Linked DNA regions of Homo sapiens. The protein of the gene in region 1 purifies or fractionates together with the protein of each later gene. This does not show direct contact. Each region holds a gene or a part of one and is shown on either strand. Other genes may lie near its edges. The genes, in order: IGSF3, TSPAN14, QSER1, ROBO2, TXK and TSPAN5.

Region 1 (3,413 bases):
ATTCTGGGAAATCCCCGCTGCATTTCATGGCCAGGGCAGCACTTCATAGTTGGAAAAGGATGGTGTGGACTTGCCGCAGAGGCCCTAGAGAAGGCCATCCTGTGTTCCTGCTCTCCTTCTCATCCGGCTTCTACCCCCACCCCACCCCCCAACAAAAACGCTACAGGTTATAAGATCTACATTCTGAACCTGGCTTTCAGGGGCTAGGTGTGTTGTGTGTTGCACAGCTCTAGAGGTAGCATAGCCTTGATCATCGGGGTGGAGGTGTCTATTTACTATATGTTGCAGCAGATGGCAGTGAAGTGTCTTGAGGAAGAGGTGTTTTTATCATTTGAAGGTTATGGGGTGTAATAATAAAGACTGCAATTCACAGACCTTGAGCCTAGCAGGCCAATGCCAAGGGCAGAACTGTAGGCTCCCACAGCACAGTTCCACAGAGGAAGGGGGCTGGTTAGTAAGGGGAAAGAAGGATAGAAGACTGCAGTAAATGTAAACAGCCGTATTTTCAACATAATTTACTACAGGTCTCTGAAGTGTATATAAAATGTTTTAGTGCAACATCTTACAAATAGTTTTCCTTTAAAAAAACAGAAACAAATCAACAGCTCTCTACATCATGCATGGGTAGTTTTCTTACCCCATCTTTTTTTTTCCTCAATAATTAACGCAGAGAAACCATTGTTTGAAAAGAATATGAAAACTTGCTACAGAAACACCCGGTGAAAGAGGGTGTGGTCATATTCATGTCCTAGAATGCGCCTAGCACAGTGTAGTTTTTCATAAATGCAACATTGTAGACATAGATGAATCCAGAGTATTCAGCAGTTTTCCTCCGTCTCAGAAGACTAAAGCTCCAGTAGACAATGCGCAATGAGGTCTCACAGCCACTGGAGGGCACCATTACCATCCATCTGACATCGCATTTCCATAGAAATGGCCAAAGAAAGAAGGTCCTGGGGTTTTTCATAGAAAGCTCAAAAAGTTCAACCTTTGATGCTATCCCCCAGCCCAATACAAAATACACAGAAAAAGCAATTATTAAAATACTGGCTTCGGTTTCTTTTTTTCCTTTCAAATTTCCTACAATTGCTTTACATATTTGTGTGCAGCACCTACTTCTTTATCGCCGTGAACTGAAATCTAAGATTTCAAACTGAAATCTTAGTTACACATCCTAGTCCCAGCCAGCGCTCTGGCAACCTCCCATTTAGACAGAGGAAACGCCAGTCATCTTCCCTCATTGACTCAGCCTATAAAGTAGGAGTCAGCAAATTCCCACTGAAAGCCCACATCTCTGAAATAAAGAAATGGGGCAAAAGACCTTCTTTTTTCATGACTGAGCCGCTCCTGTACCTCTAATGTGTTGATGCAGCATAATAAATGAGAATCAGCATGTCAGGCAACAGCAGGATTAAGGTGGTGGTGCCTGCACACACTGTCTCACAGGAGGGTACGGTATACTTGGGGGAGAAAAGGCAGGTCTGTGTGTCTGTCAGAAAATGGCTGAGCAATCGCCACCATGCTCCCCTCAGCTGGGAATCAGCAAAGTATCTGCCGAGCAGCCCAGGCCACCTGCATACCTGCAGACCCTTGAAGGATCAGCACAGACACTGGCCTGGGGAATCCCATGGCCTCCCCTGCAGTCTGCTCGTTCTCAGAACAGGGCTTCACTGGAATCTTTTATCAGACTTAGTTCCAGAATCCCTGATGACTTTTTCCAAACTGTGACCCCCTCTTGGGATTCAGGATGTAAGTTCCCAGAGTAAAGGAGATGGCATGCTTGGCCAGAAAAATATGGGAAAGCAAGGGTATAAGAACATCTTCATAAAGGGAGCAAAAGGAAATATTTGCAATTGATGATGCCCTAAGAAGGACAAGCAGCACCTGGCCCAACAGTGTAAAAGAACAGGGTGACACCAGCCATCATGGGGCTCAAGGGGCGTTAAAATAAAAAGCCACCATAACAATGAACAACCAAACAACCTAGAACCACAAGAGAGATCAAGAAAGGGAAAGGAAAAATCCCACAGACAATGCCTTGTGATCACAGTCTGCTGAGACTAGGCAAACAGAAAGGATGACAAAGGGCTGCGTCTGGACTGCCCCCAGGCTGATATTCTTATGGCAGTGAGAGGCAGGGAGAGAAAAATGAATAAGGAAGACATCACTATAATTAAGGAAAATCTAATTGGAAGGAAGAAGAAAAACCTAGTCTTCACACCTCCAGGGAGGTAGATATTTCTCTGCACTCTCCAACACCAGGCCCTGGAAACCCCCCTCCCACCCCTCACTGTCCCACCAAACTTAGTGTCAGCCAGCCCCGTGCCCTCCGTCAGGTGTCTGCCATGGCTGCTTTGGCCCTGTGCTCAGCTCAGGGGCCCACTTCCAAGTTCACTGGACACTTTCTTTTAAGAGTTTGGCAAAGCACCTGAAGACACAGGCCCACCTGCTCACAGTTAATCAGTTAGAGACCATCCTTGCAGCTCAGAGCAAGCCAACAGCCAGCCTTTCTCCCTTCCTTCTCTAGTCACTGGCTTTGACAAATCTGCAGGTCAGCAGCTGCTAAAAGCAGCCCCTGCCCACTTTAATTTGGAAAGTGTGTGCCGTTTGGGGCTTCTGACCCATTCTCCAAGACAGTTTTCTTATTTTTTGGCAAGGATGGGATGAAGCCTTTTTTGCCTCCCTGACAGATAGGCCGGGCACCATCTACTCCTAATGGGGTTATGCAGGATTTCTCTTGTACATACACAGTTCTTTGAAGCAAAATTCAGTGCTTTCGTCTTGACTACAAAGTGGTTCCAATAACTCCAGCTGAGGGAAAAGACAACATACAAATTTTGCCCACACTACACACAATTCTTAAGTCTTGTTAAGAAAGTAAAAAACGTTTGGGTATATTTTGATCCATGGGTGGCATTTTCAAATGTGCAAAAACAAAGTCTTGGAAGAGATTCCTTGTCACTAGAAAGTTCGCCCTTCCTTTTGCTGTCAGTTGTACGTAAGAGAAATTCGTCCACATTAAGGAATCCAAAAAGGGTAAACTAAAGGGATTTAAAAAGAGTACATTACAAAGAATAAGAAGCCCTGTAACATCTATCTGAGAATACTAGATAAATCTGTGAGTAGATGTGGCACCTGGAGCTACTCACTACATTACTAAAAACAGAAACAAGAAATCTATAATGGCAGGATCACAACATTTGCGCGCAAATAGCTAACCAACCAAGACTGCCACCGAGAGGCAGTCTGTCTCTGTGACTGACTGGGAACTTGGAACACTTTTCAAGTCTGACAACTTTCCACACACATGCACCCCAGAGTTTGGGTGCTGTCAACTGTCCAATCACAGAGAAAGGGAGAGCCTCAGCTCCTCCGTGGCCAACATCCGCTGGGGCATCACCCGCTTAGTCTAT
Region 2 (3,500 bases), on another chromosome or scaffold:
CTGAAGCTGAGCTCCTGCTGCAATTTGTGTTCCCTGCTCTCCCTGTCCTGGGCAAACCAGTCTGACAACTTTGTGGTTCTCGCTCCCGCCTCCATCAGCCTGGGGATTGACTGTCCCATTTGTCTGAGCTGGGCAGAGGGAGGTGCTGTGGGGGATCTCTTCCTCTTGCCTGGACTGCACACTCCTGCTGCCTTCTAGCCGGAGCTCCTGGGCATTTTGCCTATGGGAGCTTCACCAGCTTCCTTCTGTCTGAGGCCTACAAGTCCCTGCCTCCAGCCTACCTTGTTCCTCCTCCATGAGTGAGGCTCCTCCTTTTCTCTCTGGCCCTCCTGTCTACTTGATCAGACTCTGCCTCTCTTGAGGGCCGGCTCCCTCCAGCCTACCCTGCACAGGTGACCCTGTTTGGCCTGCCTCCTTTTCTTGAGGCTGATCTTGTCTCAACAGTCAGCTTTTCAGGAACCAGGCCCTTGCTGTTGTAAGGAAAACCTGTCGGCTGTGGATGGGGCCTTCCCTCCTTCCTAAAGGCTCTGTAGCCAGCTTCCACCCTTGCAGTGGAACAGTGGTGGTGCCAGAACCCTGCTCTCTGCAGCCATCCTGCCTACCACAGTCATTGTGTTTTGTAACTCTAGTAGCTTCTTGTGAAATACAAGTGATGGTATAAACGTGGATAGGTTTTTGAGGGGGGCATGCCAAAATCAGAGTTGGTGGTAGTGGTGGGGGATTCATTCCCAAGGGCTCTGGGGTGCTAAGTGTGTGAGCAAAGAGGAACAAGTGGCATGTGCCCAGGATGGGGTGGGGCGGGCAGGTTTAGTTGAGGGCTCCTCTGGTGTAGGGTAGCCCTGACGCTCCCCTCCATGGCATGACTGATGAGGTGGCAAAGGCAGGTGCCAGGATTTGGTGTGTTGAAGATTAGTGCCTGGGTTGGGCTCTGCTCACTCCTGCAGAAAGACGGTTGGAGAGGGGCTGGTCTTGGTTTCACAGAGGATTGTGGGATTACAGGCAAGACCTGCTGAGGGCTTGCACTGAGCCACCGAGAGGAGCAGAAAGAGATACGAGGGCTTCAGGTGCCAGTATGGTTCTCACTGTTGTGAGATCTCATTTGTGCCTTTTTTTTTTTTCCTTCAGACAGGGTCTCACTCTGTTGCCCAGGCTGGAGTGCAGTGGCCCTATCACAGCTCACTGAGGCCTCCACCTTCCTGGCTCAAGTGATCCTCCCGCCTCAGCCTCCTGAGTAGCAGGGACCACAGGCATGCAGCACCACACCCAGCTAATTTAAAGAATTTTTTGTAGAGATTGGATCTTGCTATGTTGCCTAGGCTGGTGTCAAACTCCTGGGCACTTGATTTGTGCTTCTTAATTCAGGGGCTACTTATTGAACATATTTAGCAGTCTTCAGAAAGCATCTTATTCTGTAAGGGGAACCAAATATACCCATTCCCCCTCTCTGGCCTTCTTTCCCTGTGGTCTGGGCGGTCTTTGAGCTTGAGGTCATTAGGAGGTGTTTATTTCTGTCCGCCCTGGTGGCCTAGGGCGTAGGAATGGGGTGGGATGGGATGGGATGGGGTGGGGTGGGGTGGAGGAGTTATTCTACATAGATAGAGTTCTGTTTATGCAGCACTCCCTGCCATACACATCTCTCACTCAAATGGTCTGGCCAGTCCTGGTTCTAATGGTCATTGTGTCATTCCCCTCAGCAGCAGGAAAGGCTGGAATGGTTTTTGTATTGTTCCTTAGGGGGAAAAATCACTTGGAGGAAGTATATCAGTGCTTCTGAGTGCAGAGTATTTATTGACACGTCAGTTAAAGGAAGCTTTTAAACAACATATATGTATCTCTTTAGTGAGGAATAAATCTACAAGTGCATCTCACAGCTCCATTTTGCAGCTTCCATTTCCTGGAAGGTACATGGAGTTTAGTGGTTAGGGAATGGGGTTTTGAGCTGGGATTTTGGAGAAACTGTTTTTAGCCTGTCCTTGGAATTGGGCCAGGCCTAGAAATCTGTTGAAATAGCTTTCTTTAGTTGCTGAAACTGGGATGTGTTCATAGCACTAGGACCTCGAGCTCCACTGATGACTGAGTGGGGAGGGCTCAGAGAAGGGTCCCTGTGGATGCCCGGGATGCCTGGGTTTCAGTCCCGTCTCCTGCATCGCCTACATTGCCTGAATCTTAGGGTCTTACAGATTTATCATGAAGTGGGCTTGGCAGCAGATGGTCTGGTTTCTTTTGTGCCTTTGTCAGAATCTGTTCTTGCTCTTCTTAGGAAAACTTTCTATTTCAGGACTTGGGGTGGAGTCGAAAGCAGGGAGCCCTGTGAGTTGGTGAGTCTGTATCCCTGAGGCTGCCACTGCCTGACCCCCTCCTTCCCCTTGTTTCGTTTCCCCTCCCCATTACTCTGCCTTGTTCTAGGGAAACACCAGAAGCTGCCTGCAGACAGCTACGGGTAAAATTGTGTGTCCAGCCACAAACTTTAGGCATTTTAAATATTAATTTAGGTTTAACATTTTTATTTACAAAAATGTATACATGATGAAAAACACATAACAAAGATACACGGTGAAAACTCCTATTTCTATCCCTGACCCCTTCAGTTCTGCTCCCCTGAGGCCGCTGTCACCAGATGTTCAGTGCCTAGTCAAGCATGACTGTATTCCTCTCTTGTTTATTACCCCAGTGGTATACTAATTATGCTGTTTTGCACTTCCTGATTTTTACTCTGAGAATTTATCCCAGGATTGTTCCATTTTAGCACACATAGTTTAGTCCATTCTTTTTAACAGCAGTGCATGATTCTGCTGCACAGTGAATGATGACTCACTTTACCAGCTCTCTATTGATGGATTTTGAGGTTGCTTTCAGTGTTTTGTTTCTATAGGCTAAGCTGCAGGAGTGTCTTATGCATGCTGCAGGTCTGTAGTGGAAATGACTAGATGTGGAGTTACTGCATTAGGTGTGTAAAAGGAAAAGAAACATGCGGCTTTGATTCCGAAAGGGGGAATGAAAGTTTACAAAGTTTTCTTTTGGAGGGATCTTGGCCTTCTACAGAGACAAGAGCTGGAGAAACTACTGGGAAGGCATGAGAGGTGCCAGCGTGTTGGTTCCCACCCAAGTCCATCTTTGGTTCAGTTCAGGCCAGCCTGTCTCCGTGACCTCCATATTTACAGCCCTTGGCTGGCCCTCTGGCTCATGCAGCCTGTGCCCCTAAAAGTGTGAGGAGTCAGCCAGAGCGAGTTGGGGTGTAGGGAGGCGGGGAGCAGGCTTCTCATAGTGGGTTCCAGCAACCTCACGACTTTGCAGGACCTATGTGGGGTGTGAAGGGGGAGCGTTGGTTGCAGCAAGCTGGAGCTGGCGTCAGCTTTTAGAGGAGCAGATTTTCCCGCAGTGTCAGGGGTTGGTGTGAGGATCGGCCTCCTTCTCTGGCCTCCCTTGGCCTTTCGCTGCTCTGCACACCTCCCTGTTCAGGCCGCCTTGGGCCTGGTTGCCACCCTGTGATTTTAAAAGCC
Region 3 (3,500 bases), on another chromosome or scaffold:
ATTCCCCCTCTACCCTGTAGTTGGGACCAAGATGAAGGGTAAGTTTGTGATTATCTTTGGTTAGCAGGGTGGGGATATGGGCTACTACTTGTTTCTTCCTTTCCTTGGTATGTTCTCTGGAACAATGAGTACTAAAGTATGTCTACCAAAACACAGTTTTCTTTTATTCATTAAACAAATATTTGAGTACCTGCAATTGTTAAGGCAGTGTTACCTGTATCTCCTTGAGTTATATTTCTGCAGTGAAAGCTTGAGAAATCAAGTGACAAGCATGCAATCACTCATTAAAATGTAGTGGCCATCTCTCAGTTTCTGTTTCTCAGCTGAGTTCTGCAGGGTGCCACAAAAATGAAAAAAAAAACACTGTCTTGCCTCTGAAAGAACTTGTGATCTGGAGGGTGAGAGGGTAATGCACTTGCTTCCTCTCTGCTTGGCTTCTAAATGTTGAAGTGCTCAGAAACTTGGAGTTCTGTCCTTTTTTCTTTTCTCTCCACTGACCCTAGGTGTAGTTGCCATATATGTGAGATGACTTTCAAATTTACATCTCTGGATTCATATCTAGCATCTGACATCTTCATTTGAATATTGAATAGGTATTTCCAAAATGACATATCCAAAACATGATTGTCACCCTCTCAACCTGGGCCTCCTCTAGCCTTCCCCACCTCAGTAATTATTATCACCATTTACTCCATTGCTTATGTCCAGAAGGTTAGAGCCATCCATGATTCATTTCATTCCTTCCCATATTGAGTCCCTCAGCAAATCCTGTTGGTTCAATCTCCATATCCATAATTTCCTGCATGGATAATTGCAGTTGCCTCCTGTTGCTTTTCTTGCCTCCTTTTAGGCCTTCTGTAATTTATTAAGTATGCAACAGCCAGAATTAACTTTTCAAAAGTATAGGTCAGGTAATGTCATTACCCTGCTTAGAACCTTCCAGTGTTAATCAGTAAAATCCAATGACTTGGTCAGGTGTGGTGACTCATACCTGTAATCCCAGCACTTTGGGAGACTGAGGCAGGATCACTTGAGGCCAGGAGTTCAAAACCAGCCTGGCCAACATGGCAAAACCCTGTCTCTACTAAAAATACAAAAATCAGCTGGGCATGGTGGCAGGTGCCTGTAGTCCCAGCTACTCGGGAGGCTGAGGCAGGAGAATAGCTGGAACTCAGGAGGCGGAGACTGCAGTGAGCTGAGATCACACCACTGCACTCCAGCCTAGGTGACAGAGCAAGACTCCATCTTAAAAAAAAAAAAATCGAATGACTTATCGTGGCCTACAAAGCCCTGCATGATCTAAGCCTCAGCTAATTTCTCCAACCTCATGTCATTCCCCTCCCACCACCATCCTTCAGCCATACTGGCTTTACTTCTGTTCCTGAAACATGCTAAGATTATTTGTGTCTTAGGACTTTTGCACCGGCTATTCTCTTTAACTGAAGTTTTCTTTGCAGGTCTTTGCTTTGCTGCTTCTGCTTTTGCTGATTGTTAGGTCTTTCCCCACATGTTACCTTCTCAGAAAGGCCTTCTCTGACTGCCCTGTCTAAAGTAACTGCACATCACTGACACATGACAGTTTTACCTCTTCAGAGCATTCTCACTCTCTGGAGTAATTTTGTTGATTTATATGTATCGTTTATTACCACCCTTTCCCGATACCACTAACCATCACTGATAGAATGCATGTTCCATGAGAACAGGGCTCTTTGTCTTGTTCACATCTGTACAAGGCAGGTTAGTATAGTAGTTGATAGCATAAGCTCTGGAGTTATAATGTTTGAGTTTGTATTTTGACTCCACCACTTGCAGTATGATCTTAGACAAGTTTCTTAACCTCTCTGTGCCTCAGTTTCCTTATGTAAAATGAGGACACTTAGAATTCTTGAAGATTAAATGGAAAAACTTAGAAAAGTATTTAGAGTGATGTCTAGCATATAGGATAGCATATAGATTATTAACTTTATTGTCAGCACTGAGAAAAATGTCTGATGCATTGTGCCATTAAACATTCAATGAATGAATGAAATAACTGCTATTAATACTTGCCAGACTATTCCAGAGGTACAAAAATAATTCAGGGACTTAGTGGGGAAAATTATATTGAGTTCAAGGGGATCATGGTAGCATTTGTCAAGTAGATTGCATACAAACTGATCTGAATTATTGCTAATGTTGCATAGTGGAATAAGGGATTAGTACAAAGAAGGAGCTCCTAAGAATAAGTGTTCTAAGAGGGAGGAAATGGAATCTGCTAGGCCAGTTAAGGGCTGGGCCTTGAACTGGCACAGCATCACTTCTGCCAGTCTGTTGGTCAAAGCAGTCCCTGGTCCATTGCAGAATTGTCATGGGAGGGAAACTACACAAAGGTGTGGTTCATTGGGGAGCTCACCAGAGTAACACTGTACCACAGAGCGTTGGTACTAGATTTTAGAGGGCTTCTGATGACAGATCATGGAGTTTAGTCTCTCCACTCTAAAGGATAGGGAATGGCCAGGCGTGGTGGCTTGTGCCCATAATCCCAGCACTTTGGGATGCTGAGATGGGCTGATGGCTTGAGCTCAGGAGTTTGAGACCAGCCTGGGCAACATGGTGAAACCCCGTCTCCACAAAAATACAAAAATTAGCCTGGCATGGTGGCATGCGCCTGTGGTCCCAGCTACTTAGAAGGCTGAGGTGGGAGGATCGCTTGAGCCTGGGAGGTGGAGGCTGCAGTCAGCCATGATTGTGCCACTGCACTCCAGTGTGGGCATAGGGAGTGAGACCTGTCTCAAAAACACAACAAAAAAATCCACATAAAATCTCTGTTCTTGTGGAGTTTACATTCTTGGGTGAAGGAGTCGGGCAGGCAAATTATTGAGAAAATTTTCTCCTAGAGGAAGTGCACTTCCCTGAGATCTGAGGAAGCAGCAAGTGCAAATGTCGCAAGGCAGGAACAAGCCTGGCAGTTCCCTTCCCTGGCAGGATCTTGCTGTAGCTCAGTGGTACTTCAGAACCACCCAGAGGGCTTGTTGAAACACAGGTTGCTGGGCCCAACTCCAGAGTTTCTGAATCCATAGGTCTTGGGTGGAGCTCAAGAATTTGCATTTCTAACAAGTTTGTAGGTGATTCTTATGCTGCTTGTCCAGTGAGGAGATTTTGAGAACCACTGACCTGGATCTTGTCAGTGTTGGCTTCTTGACATTCTTATCTCCTTAAATATCATCTCTTCGCAAAGAACTTCCTTGAGCACCAGATCTAAAGTCCCACCAGGTTTCCTTTGTTCCAACGCTTCTGTTTTCCCCAAAGTATTTTTCCTTAGCTGACAAGACCAGACAGGTGAGTTTAGGAGTCTGACTGGACATGTGTATAGAGACAATAGTGGAATCTCAGAGATTAAGGTCTTTGAGGGTGAAGAATGAAGGGCTGAGAACTGAGCCTTTGCCATTGTAGGTGATAGTGTCTATTACATGCCTACTATGTGCTGAGCACTGGCCTAATAATTTTATAGTGTTATCTCA
Region 4 (3,500 bases), on another chromosome or scaffold:
TTAGATAATCAATCAGCGATATTGGCATGTAATGGTGCACAAGTATGAACAGGAGAAGGAAGCAGTTAAATCTACAAGCACTAAATTCATTAATTGTCTTTAATTAGCAATTTGGTTTTTCCACATGAGTAAGTTTGTTGGGAAGTTATTGCCTCTTGTAACTGTGGGGTAACAATTAGCTAAAAAGGTCTTTTAAGAATAAATTGAGATATTGAGATAACAGATGTAATTACAATTAGAAATTAAGATAACAGCCAGGTGATTTACTGTGGTGACACCAACAGCTTCAGGAAGAAATAAACCGAGAGAACATTTCAGATACCATGTGGTTGCTACTTATTGCCAGTATAATTGTGTGCATGTATGTGTATATGTATTTGTGTCAATGTGCATATTTTTCTCATTTAATTTCAGCTATGACAGTGATAGCTGGTGCCCACCATTGCCAGTACAAACTTACTTACACCAAGGTCTGGAAGATGAACTGGAAGAAGATGATGATAGGGTCCCAACACCTCCTGTTCGAGGCGTGGCTTCTTCTCCTGCTATCTCCTTTGGACAGCAGTCCACTGCAACTCTTACTCCATCCCCACGGGAAGAGATGCAACCCATGCTGCAGGCTCACCTGGATGAGTTGACAAGAGCCTATCAGTTTGATATAGCAAAACAAACATGGTAAATATCTTCATTAAGTCAAGAGACCCATGCTTTCAACACATGGAAATTTTTTTCAGAATAAATTCACAAGAGATTCTGATAGAACTACACAGCTAGGGTTAAAAGTGATTTTGTATGACTCCTTAATCATTTAGATAAATGTATCCACTGAGAAATGTTAAATAATTTGGCCAAAACTAGAACTAGAACTAGAACTAGAACTGGAACTGGAGCTGTAACTGTAACTGTAACTAGAACTAGAACTAAAACTAGAACTAGAGCAAGAATTCAAATCTGCTGTATTTCAGGCTAAAGTGCTCTTGGCTACACCAGAATCTTTTCTAATTTATGGTTTATCTTCAATTAGCTTATCATTGAACTCACATCCCATGATGTAATAAAAGACTCCTTTTAGATTCCTCAAAGTGCCTGTGATTAATTCTGTATGTGGTTGTCAATATGTAAATGTGAGCTTCTGCAAATCACATATGGTCAGTATTAGTTATTAAAAGACTCTCTTTACCTGAGTTAAGTGCAACAGAAAAAAAAAGACAATACTAGTATCAGTAAGTGCATAAAAAGCAGGAGTAAATCAAAAATTTCACATTTCTTTTTCTAATCTATAAACTTTTGTAAACTACAGGTGTCAGTTTACCTAGGTATCCTGTGGAATTAACACAGATATATAAATGGGACTAACGCTAACAGTTTTATACAGGATTTTTGTTATTCAATCTTTCTATTTTAATTTTCAAAAGCCCAGGCTTTTATATCACTATTTTAAAGCTCCATGTCATACTCCAATTTTCTTCTGTTGATTTACCCTTTGTGCTTGAAGTCTGAGTAAATTTTTTAAATAGTATTTGTTTTGTTTTTTAAATTGTTCTAGTCATGGGGATAAATAATTCTTATTCTCATTATTAATGAAGTATGTATTATTAAAATACAGCTAACTATACATAGAAAGAGATACCAAAAGGAAGAGTATTACTTAAAGATTATTACAAACAGCCTCTTTTCTTAAGATATTCTTGAACATTTTCCAACAGTCATCAGATGCTTTCTCAAAGGTCAAAGACAACTTACCGTTAAACGCTGTTATTTTTCATCAATCTGCTTTTAATAAAACATCACTATGTAAGTTGAAGCCAGCTGCTTCAAGAGCCACAGGGCTTCCTTCACGTTAACTAATGAAGCAATGCAGTTTGGTCATCTAAAGCACAGACTCAAGCTGAAGGGTTCTCAAATTTGCCACATTTTAGAACCATTTGGATAACCTTAAAATATATTGGTACCTGGGCTCCACTCCCAGAGAAAGATTCTGACTGCCATGATCTGGAATTTGATCCAGATCATGGGACAGCCAAGGTTGGGACCACTGCCGTGGAGATGAACCTGTCTTACTAGCTGCATGACTTTGGGCAACTTGCTCAACATTTATATGCTATAGTTTCCCCATGTGTAAAATGATGGTGATGATAATAGTAATTAGCTCATATAGGAAATTAGAGGGCAGTCCCCAAGACAACCTATATTTCTGATACCAAGTACAAGTTTCAAGGGTCCCCAAGACCACCCTGAAGTTTCAGAATTCTCTATAGTAAGTCATAGAACTCACCAAAAGATTTTACACTCAAAGCTACAGTCTATTACAGTGAAAAGATACGCATTAAAATCAGCCAAAAGAAGAAATGCATGGGACAAGGTCCAGGAAAATTCCAAAAGTAGAGCTTCCAGTTGTCCTCTCAGTGGAATCATAGCGTTACTTTCCCAACAAAGGGTGTGACATTACACACCATGGAGAATTGCCAGCCAGGGATGGGCACACCTTCCTTGAGGTCCTGCGACTTCATTTTGGCTCTGTCACACAGACATTGTTGACTACCCATATGGCTGACCTCAATTTCCAGCCCCTCCAGAGGCTGAGGTGACACCATGCAACTCCAAGCCCCCCCATAATCATATTGCGATGCTTTTTGGAGTAGCCTAAGGCCTCTAGGTAAGCAGAGAGACTTTTATCCACAGGACATTCTAAGGGCTTACAGATTACCTCCCAGGAGTAGAGGGCAAAGGCCTAACCTCTCTTGGGTCGAGGTTCAATTCTTTGTTACATATCCTAGTTTTTGTGAGAATGAAATGAGTATGAACTTATATACTACTGTCCCTGGCTGTATATTAGCTGTTATTAGTTAGAAAGGCCTAGGTTTTCACCCCTGAGTTGTTCACTTCTGTCTTCCCACACTTAGAAGAGTGTCCCACTTAGTAAATGCTTGATAGATATTTGGTAAAAGAATGAACAAATTAGTTCATCTCCACCTGCTGCAAATACCCATAGAGGACACCCTGTTTCTTCTTCTGAGTGTGTTCCTACTCAACCAGCAATCTTTCAGAATGCCTTGGCTGACTCCACATCTGGGAGTTATGAGCTTGCATGTGCTTCTGGTTTGGAAGTGACTCACCATCTGGGTAGCACATCAACATCATAGGACTGTTTAACAAATAATAATTCCCAGGCTCCACCTCCCAGGATCTGTTTCTATTGATTCGTGAAGTAAACAGCACAGTGCCTGTCACTAGAAGATATTTATAAATGTTATGTGTCCTCTTCCTGTATTTCAATTTACCTCTTAATTTTGCTTAAATAGGAGTACATTTTTTATTCCATCAAGGTATATTTGTTTTATCAAGAGGTATCAATTCATAAGCATATTGATGGCAACATTTATAGCAAGATGTGCTCATCTATCCTCAAGCTTTTCTGTACTAATACTTAGGAAACTTGCTATTTCTTCCTATTTTTCAACTAGCAGGCTGTGAGGAATGCTGAATACTAACTTGGGGCC
Region 5 (3,500 bases), on another chromosome or scaffold:
GCAGCAACATAACCCCCTCCCTTCTAACACCCACACCACCACCACCTTCCAATTGTGGAAACCCAAGTGTTTCCAGGCATTGCCAAATGTTCCCTGGGGGCAAAATCAACCCCAGTGGAGACACTGGACCAGATTGTAAGCTTCTCAATCTCAGGGACTGCATCTTATCCTTTTTTTTTTATTTTTAATTTTTTTTTTCTGTCTTCTCCCTAGCTTCTAGCATCAGTGCCTGGCACATAACAAAAGCTCAATAAATAACTGTTAAATAAGACCCCACCAATATCAACACCCTTACATTACATCTGAGCTCTTCTTTTTTTCCACTCATTCATCTTATCACCCAGTATTTCACAGTGTGATGCTGGCCACAGAGAAAGCTAAGCTGACCGTGACCTTTTGACTGAGTGGAACGGCAAAGGTGAAGACTGAGCTTCCGGAGCTTTAGCCAGCATTTGTGGGGGCTCATAAGTCTAACCTTTTATTCCAGACATATATTTTTAAACAAATGCTTATCCAAAATAAAGTACCAAACCATGAGATGCCAAATGAAATTATTAAAAACTCTCTGGCATTCAAATGTGTTTGTTTTTTCTTTTCTGTATTAAAAGAACATATGGGGTTCAGCAGGCTTTAGTATCAGGCAGACATGCACTCAAATCACTGTTCCCTTTTCTTGGAGCAACAATGTGATTTTGGGCAATCAAATCTAGAAAACGTAGGTAATAAAAGTTGTCTTCTAAGAAAGGGTTTCCCCACTTCTACCAACACAGCCCTTACCATATGCCAGGCATGACAGATACTTAGATCTTACTATACTACGCCATGCTAACTTACTCACTATACTAACATTATGATCCCCATCTTACACATAAAGAAACAGAGGAACAGAGAGCTTCAGCCATTTATCCAGTCACATAAAAAGCAGCTGAGCCAGAAGTCAAACCCAGAGTCCATGAGCATCACAATAGGACTATCCTTGTGGATGAGAAGATTAAATAAGATTGCAGAGGCAAACATGGCTAGAACATACCAGCTACTCTCAGTTACTTTACCACTTTGTCCCCATCCCCCAGTTCCCTAGAACTCATTCAGCAACTATTTATTGGGTACTCACAAAATACATTTAAGGTAACCAAATAGGAGCAGGTGTGGTTTTCCCTCTGAAGACAAAATGGAGGAAGAAGGCTTAGTAAACGAAAGCGAATCTTCAGCTCCAACTCCTCTCTTCTGAGCCAACTTTATCCCTGACTCAAAGGCAGATGTTTCCCCCGTTCAGGACTCCAGGAGACTCTCTCTCCCTGCTATCAAAGCAGGCCTCAGGAGAGGCTCTCACACTTTTTCTCAGTAAGGTATAAATGACAGACACAATGTTAAATAGTAAACATGCTGTACTGCAGCGCTTCAGCAATGTCATGCTTACTGCAGTGCAGAGGCGTGTACATGTTTGTAAGCATGACATTTGTAACAGTCAGGGTGAACACAGAGAGAGGTTTCTTTTAAGGAACTGGCTCAGGCAGTTGTGGAAACTGGCAAGTCCAAAATCTAACAGGGCAGGCCGGCAAGCTGAAGAATGAGAGAAGAGTTGCAGTTTGAGCCCAAAGGCGGTCTGCTGGCAAAAGTCCTCCTTGCTCAGGGGAGGTCTGACTTTCATTGATTAGGGACTTCAACTGTGGGAGAGGCCCACTCACATGATGGAGGGTGACCCACTGTACTCCAAGTCCACCGATTTAAATGTTAATCTCATCCAAAAATTACCTTCACAGAAACATCCAGAATAATGTTTGATCAAATATCTGGGCACCATGGCCAAGCCATGTTGACCCATAAAATTAACCATCACAACACATTAAATTTAAATAGTTTGACACTTGAAAAACATGGTATAAACATTTACATGAAGATTTTCTTCTGCCTCTGTCACCCCTGAGACAGAAAGACCAATCCCTCCTCTTCATCATCCTTCTCAGACTATTCAACATGAAGATGACGAGGATGAAGGCATTTATCATGAGCCACTTTCACTCCATGAATAGTAAATCTATTTTCTCTTCCTTATGACTTTCTTAAAGCATTTCTTTTCTCTAGCTTACTTTATTGTAAGAATACAGTGTATGATACACATAACATACAAAATACGTGTTGATCAACATTTATGTTATTGAGGCTTCTGGTCAATGTTAGGCTATGAGTAGTTACATTTTGGGGAACCACCTTATTCAAGTGTCAACAACTTTGTGTGTGTGTGTGGTTGTTTGTTTTGTTTTGTTTGAGATGGAGTCTTGCTCTGTCATCCAGGCTGGAGTGCAGTGGCATGATCTCGGCTCACTGCAACCTCCGCCTCCCAGGTTCAAGCGATTCTCCTGCCTCAGCCTCCCAAGTAGCTGGGACTACAGGCACACTCCACCATACCCGGCTAATTTTTTTGGTATTTTTAGTAGAGATAGGATTTCACCACATTGGCCAAGCTAGTCTCAAACTCCCAACCTCAAGTGATCCCCCTCTTTGGCCTCCCAAACTGCTGGGATTACAGGCAGGAGCCACCATGCCTGGCCAAGTCAAGAACTTTGAAAGAGAAATTGCTGTTATCAGTCAGCAGGCAGGAGTATCTGGGACTAGAGAAATGCCTCCCCCAGCTCCCTGACCTCACAACACATGGCCACACCTGATAATATTCCCCTTAGTTGTCTTCACTGTCTTCTGCAGCCTGGAATTTAGGAGAAAATATTTTCAAAAATTCTTATGTTTCCTGATTCAATAGCAAAGACAATGGCCTTTAAAGAAAGATACAGACCTACCCTACCACTGCTTTAATTATGACCCAATTTTATTTAATTTCCCTCAAAGTCCAAGAACAGTGGTGAGCAGGAAGGCAAACCACTGCTTTGTTTGTGGTTCCATCCTCTGCCCAGCAGAGTTGCTGCCCAATAAATAATCATTGCGAGAAGAAAAATCACACTATGAAAGCCAAACAGCTCCCTGGTGTTCCCTTGCTTGGCATGACTTTCCAAGACAGCAGGCATCTTTATTTACAGGTTGAAGTGTTGGGCCAAAATTCATTCCAATGCAGGTATCAAGGAGTATTCATTTCATGATCATTTTCAATTTACAGCAGCACAGGTGTTCCCAGTAAGTAAATAGACAGCGCCCTTCCACAGGCATTCTGTGATTACAGAAGCCATTCTTTGAATTGTTTTGCCGATTAACCTGCAGAGGGAAAGCTCTTGAGCTTTTAGCAAATTCCCAACTTAGGCAGGAACTCATGCATATCAAGGGCCTTTGCCAGAGTGACAAAAATGCCCCAGAGATAGGCAATGACTATTTGCCTGCTGGAAGGAAATGTGGAAAGAATATATTCGGGCTTGAAGATTATCACTGAAGGAGCTGAGCTTCCTCTCCCAGGCTTACATCTGCGCTGTTCTTTTCATCTACTTCTCATTCCTCAGTAAATATCTCTAATGATGAGCCTCAGGCCAGCAAATCAGAAAAAGGGCATCGCATCA
Region 6 (3,500 bases), on another chromosome or scaffold:
ATGCTTCCCCTTTCACCTACAGATCCTCTGGGCAGAGCTAGCTCATTCCTTGCGCTCTAAGCTAATAAAATCTGCCCCACACCCCGCAGAGAAGGAAAATAAACAACCCGAAAAAGTGGAACCATGTTTCTGATCAGACCCTGTGAGACGTCAGGTTGTCTGTGTGATTATGTGGTCGGGGCATTGTTTTGTTTTTTAATTATTAAAAGCTCATTGAAAAACAATTTAAGTAACATGGAAGTACATAGATTAAAAAGTAGCAGTCCATCCAAAAGAGCATACATGAAGATTCACTGTGCCCTTTATGTTTTTTATCTGTGTCTCCAGTTCCCTAAATCCCATAAGCTTCTTGAGGTTGGCACCACTTTGAATCTTGAGCCTCCTGTGTGATAGACTTGCTGTCTTTTCTGATATTCCCCAAGCCTTAGTTTTCCTTATTTGTAAAATAGGGCATATTTTAATACCTACTTCTGAAGATTGTCGCAATAATGACATGGGATCATGTATATAAAGTGTTTAACATAGTGCTGCAGTCTTTGTGCCCAGATACACATTTTATTACTAATGCGTAACAGAAGTCTTCTGCTCATTTCTAGGTGGGCTTTCTGTCTAATGAGTAAATTTCACTTTTCTCTTTCCTTTCTTCACCAGGAAGATGTCATCAACACTCAGTGTGGCTATGATGCCAGGCAAAAACCAGTAAGTGGAATCTCATGTTGTTGCTTAGCACGAAGGGTGTTGGAGGAGCTTTGGCCTGTGCCTGGTGCTCTATCTGTGACAATGTGCTCTCCTCTTCTCTTGTGAAGGAAGTTGACCAGCAGATTGTAATCTACACGAAAGGCTGTGTGCCCCAGTTTGAGAAGTGGTTGCAGGACAATTTAACCATCGTTGCTGGTATTTTCATAGGCATTGCATTGCTGCAGGTAAGATAAGGGTCCTTTATGGATATCACAGGGAAATAATGCCCTGGGAGAGCCCTTGCCAGGATCGGAGCTTTGCTTAAAAACCTTGATTGTCATAGTTTTTAAGACACATTGGAGGGCTGAGGAACAGACCTAAACGATTTGGTTTGTGTTTTATTTTATTCATTTATTTATTTATTTTATTTATTAATTTTTTTTTGAGATGGAGTCTTGCTCTGTCGCCCAGGCTAGAGTGCAGTGGCATGATCTTGGCTCACTGAAAGCTCCGCCTCTTGGGTTCATGCCATTCTCCTGCCTCAGCCTCCCGAGTAGCTGGGACTACAGGTGCCCGCCACTACGCCCGGCTAATTTTTTTGTATTTTTAATAGAGACGGGGTTTCACCGTGTTAGCTAGGATGGTCTCGATCTCCTGACCTCGTGATCCGCCCATCTCGGCCTCCCAAAGTGCTGGGATTACAGGAGTGATCCACCGTGCCTGGCCTGATTTGTGTTTTATTAAAGCTCTGAGTTTAGATGCTACTATCATGAAATACTTTAGGAAACCTTGTCTTTTTCTAAGATGGAGACATTAATTAGATAGTGGTTGCCTACTGGCATTCCATCGTTTACATGGGCTCAAAAATACTGCATTGTGGCAACTGAGTCAAACATGCATAGTTAGAAGTAGATCTCAGTGGTGACGTTAAGGTTTTGGGAAGTTTCACAGAGATGTCATACCCCTTTCTCTCCCTAAACTACCTTGCCAAAGTGCTAGTGAAGGAAGGGAGCACCCACTTTTCCTCCTGGCCAGTCTTAAGAGCTGGACTCTTCATGTTGTTGGTGTGATACTTTCCAAAGAGCACATAGTTGAAACAAATTAAAGAAGACCTAAGTAAATATAAAGATATCCTGTGTTCACAATTGCAAAACTTCATATTATTAAGGTAACAACACTCATCAAGTTGATCTACAGATTCAGTGTAATCCCTATCAAAATTGTAACCACCTTTTTAGCAAAAATGGACAAGCTGATCCTAAAATTCATATGGAAAAGCAAGGGACCCATAATAGCCAAAACAAATTTGCAAAAGTAAAACAAAGTTGGAGAATTCACACTACCCAGTTCAAAACTTAGTACAAAGCTATATAGTAATCAACATAGTGTGTACTTGAGTAAGATTAGCCATATAGAGAAGTGGAATAAAATTGAAAAATCAAGAAATAAAACCAGGCCAGGTGTGGTAGCTCATGGATGTAATCCCAGCACTTTGAGAGACCAAGGCAGGAGGATGGCTTGAGCCCAGGAGTTCAAGACCAGCCTGAGCAACATAGCAAGTCCTTGTCTCTACAAAAAGTAAAAATAAAAAAATTAGCCAAATGTAATGGCACATGCCTGTGGTCCTAGCTACTCAGCAGGCTGAAGTGGGAGGATTGCTTGAGCCCAGAAGGTTGAAGCTGCAGTGAGTCGTGATTATGCAACTGCACTCTAACCTGGGTGACAGAGCAAGACCTTGTCTCAAAAAAATAAGAAAAAAATATATATGATTAAAAAGAAGAAATAAGGCCGGGTGCAGTGGCTCATGCCTGTAATTCCAGAACTTTGGGAGGCTGAGTCAGGTGGATCACTTGAGCTCAGGAGTTTCAAAACAGCCTGGGCAACATGACAAAACCCTGTCTCTACAAAATATACAAAAGTTAGCTGGGCATGATGGCGCATGCCTGTGGTCCCAGCTACTTGGGGGGCTGAGGAGGGAGGATCACTTGAGCCTGGGAGGTTGCAGTGAGCTGAGATCATGCCATTGCACTCCAGCCTGGGTGACAGAGCAAGATCCTATCTCAAAAAAGAAGATGAAATAAGCTCGTACGTATATGGTCAGTTGATTTTTGACAAGGGAACCAAAACCATTCAATAGGGAAAGAGCAGTCATTTCAACAAATGGTACTGGGAAAACTAGATATGCAAAATAATGAATTTAGACTAACTCACACCATATGTAAAAATTAACTCAAAATAAAGCAAAGACCTAAATATAAGAGCTAATGCTATAGAACTCCAGAAGAAAACATAGGCATAAATATTTGTGACTTTGGATTAAGCAGTGTCTTCTTAGATATGACATCAAAAGCATAAGCAATGAAACAAATGTAAATAAATTGGACTTCAAAATTTAAAACTGTGCTGAAAATGATACCATCAAGACAGTGAAAAGATAACTCCTAGTATCTAGAAAAATAAAGAACTTTAAAAAGTCAACAATAAAAAGACAAACAACTTAAAAATGGGCAGCCAGGCATGGTGACTTGTCCCTGTAATCCCAGCTGCTTGGGAAGCAGAGGCAGGAGCCTGCACTGAGCTATGATCACGCCACTGTACTCCAGCCTGGGCAACAGAGCAAAACCCAGTCCCTTAAATTATTAAAAAACAAACAAACAAACAAAAATACGGGCAGAGGATCTGAACAGACATTTCTCTAAAGATTAAAATTGCTAATAAAGGCCGAGGCGGGTGGATCATGAGGTCAGGAGATCGAGACCATCCTGGCTAACAAGGTGAAACCCCGTCTCTACTAAAAATACAAAAAATTAGCCGGGCGCGGT

Evidence for each region.
Region 2: the proteins of IGSF3 (region 1) and TSPAN14 purify together in Homo sapiens (co-immunoprecipitation; one large-scale study listed by IntAct). This does not show direct contact.
Region 3: the proteins of IGSF3 (region 1) and QSER1 fractionate together in Homo sapiens (co-fractionation; one large-scale study listed by BioGRID). This does not show direct contact.
Region 4: the proteins of IGSF3 (region 1) and ROBO2 fractionate together in Homo sapiens (co-fractionation; one large-scale study listed by BioGRID). This does not show direct contact.
Region 5: the proteins of IGSF3 (region 1) and TXK fractionate together in Homo sapiens (co-fractionation; one large-scale study listed by BioGRID). This does not show direct contact.
Region 6: the proteins of IGSF3 (region 1) and TSPAN5 purify together in Homo sapiens (co-immunoprecipitation; one large-scale study listed by IntAct). This does not show direct contact.

The regions. Positions count from the first base shown.
Region 1 is NC_000001.11:116,573,908-116,577,320, forward strand, and holds the end of IGSF3 (immunoglobulin superfamily member 3 isoform 2 precursor), read right to left. Parts: coding exon 3,405-3,413; 3' UTR 501-3,404; downstream 1-500.
Region 2 is NC_000010.11:80,460,810-80,464,309, forward strand, and holds part of TSPAN14 (tetraspanin-14), read left to right. Parts: intron 1-2,278; exon of another isoform or gene 2,279-2,318; intron 2,319-3,500. UniProt on the Homo sapiens protein: Part of TspanC8 subgroup, composed of 6 members that interact with the transmembrane metalloprotease ADAM10.
Region 3 is NC_000011.10:32,899,311-32,902,810, forward strand, and holds part of QSER1 (glutamine and serine-rich protein 1), read left to right. Parts: intron 1-3,500. UniProt on the Homo sapiens protein: Plays an essential role in the protection and maintenance of transcriptional and developmental programs.
Region 4 is NC_000003.12:77,617,099-77,620,598, forward strand, and holds part of ROBO2 (roundabout homolog 2 isoform 23 precursor), read left to right. Parts: intron 1-414; coding exon 415-675; intron 676-3,500. UniProt on the Homo sapiens protein: Receptor for SLIT2, and probably SLIT1, which are thought to act as molecular guidance cue in cellular migration, including axonal navigation at the ventral midline of the neural tube and projection of axons to different regions during neuronal development.
Region 5 is NC_000004.12:48,124,251-48,127,750, forward strand, and holds part of TXK (tyrosine-protein kinase TXK), read right to left. Parts: intron 1-3,500. UniProt on the Homo sapiens protein: Non-receptor tyrosine kinase that plays a redundant role with ITK in regulation of the adaptive immune response. Regulates the development, function and differentiation of conventional T-cells and nonconventional NKT-cells.
Region 6 is NC_000004.12:98,473,612-98,477,111, reverse strand, and holds part of TSPAN5 (tetraspanin-5), read left to right. Parts: intron 1-651; coding exon 652-699; intron 700-806; coding exon 807-923; intron 924-3,500. UniProt on the Homo sapiens protein: Part of TspanC8 subgroup, composed of 6 members that interact with the transmembrane metalloprotease ADAM10.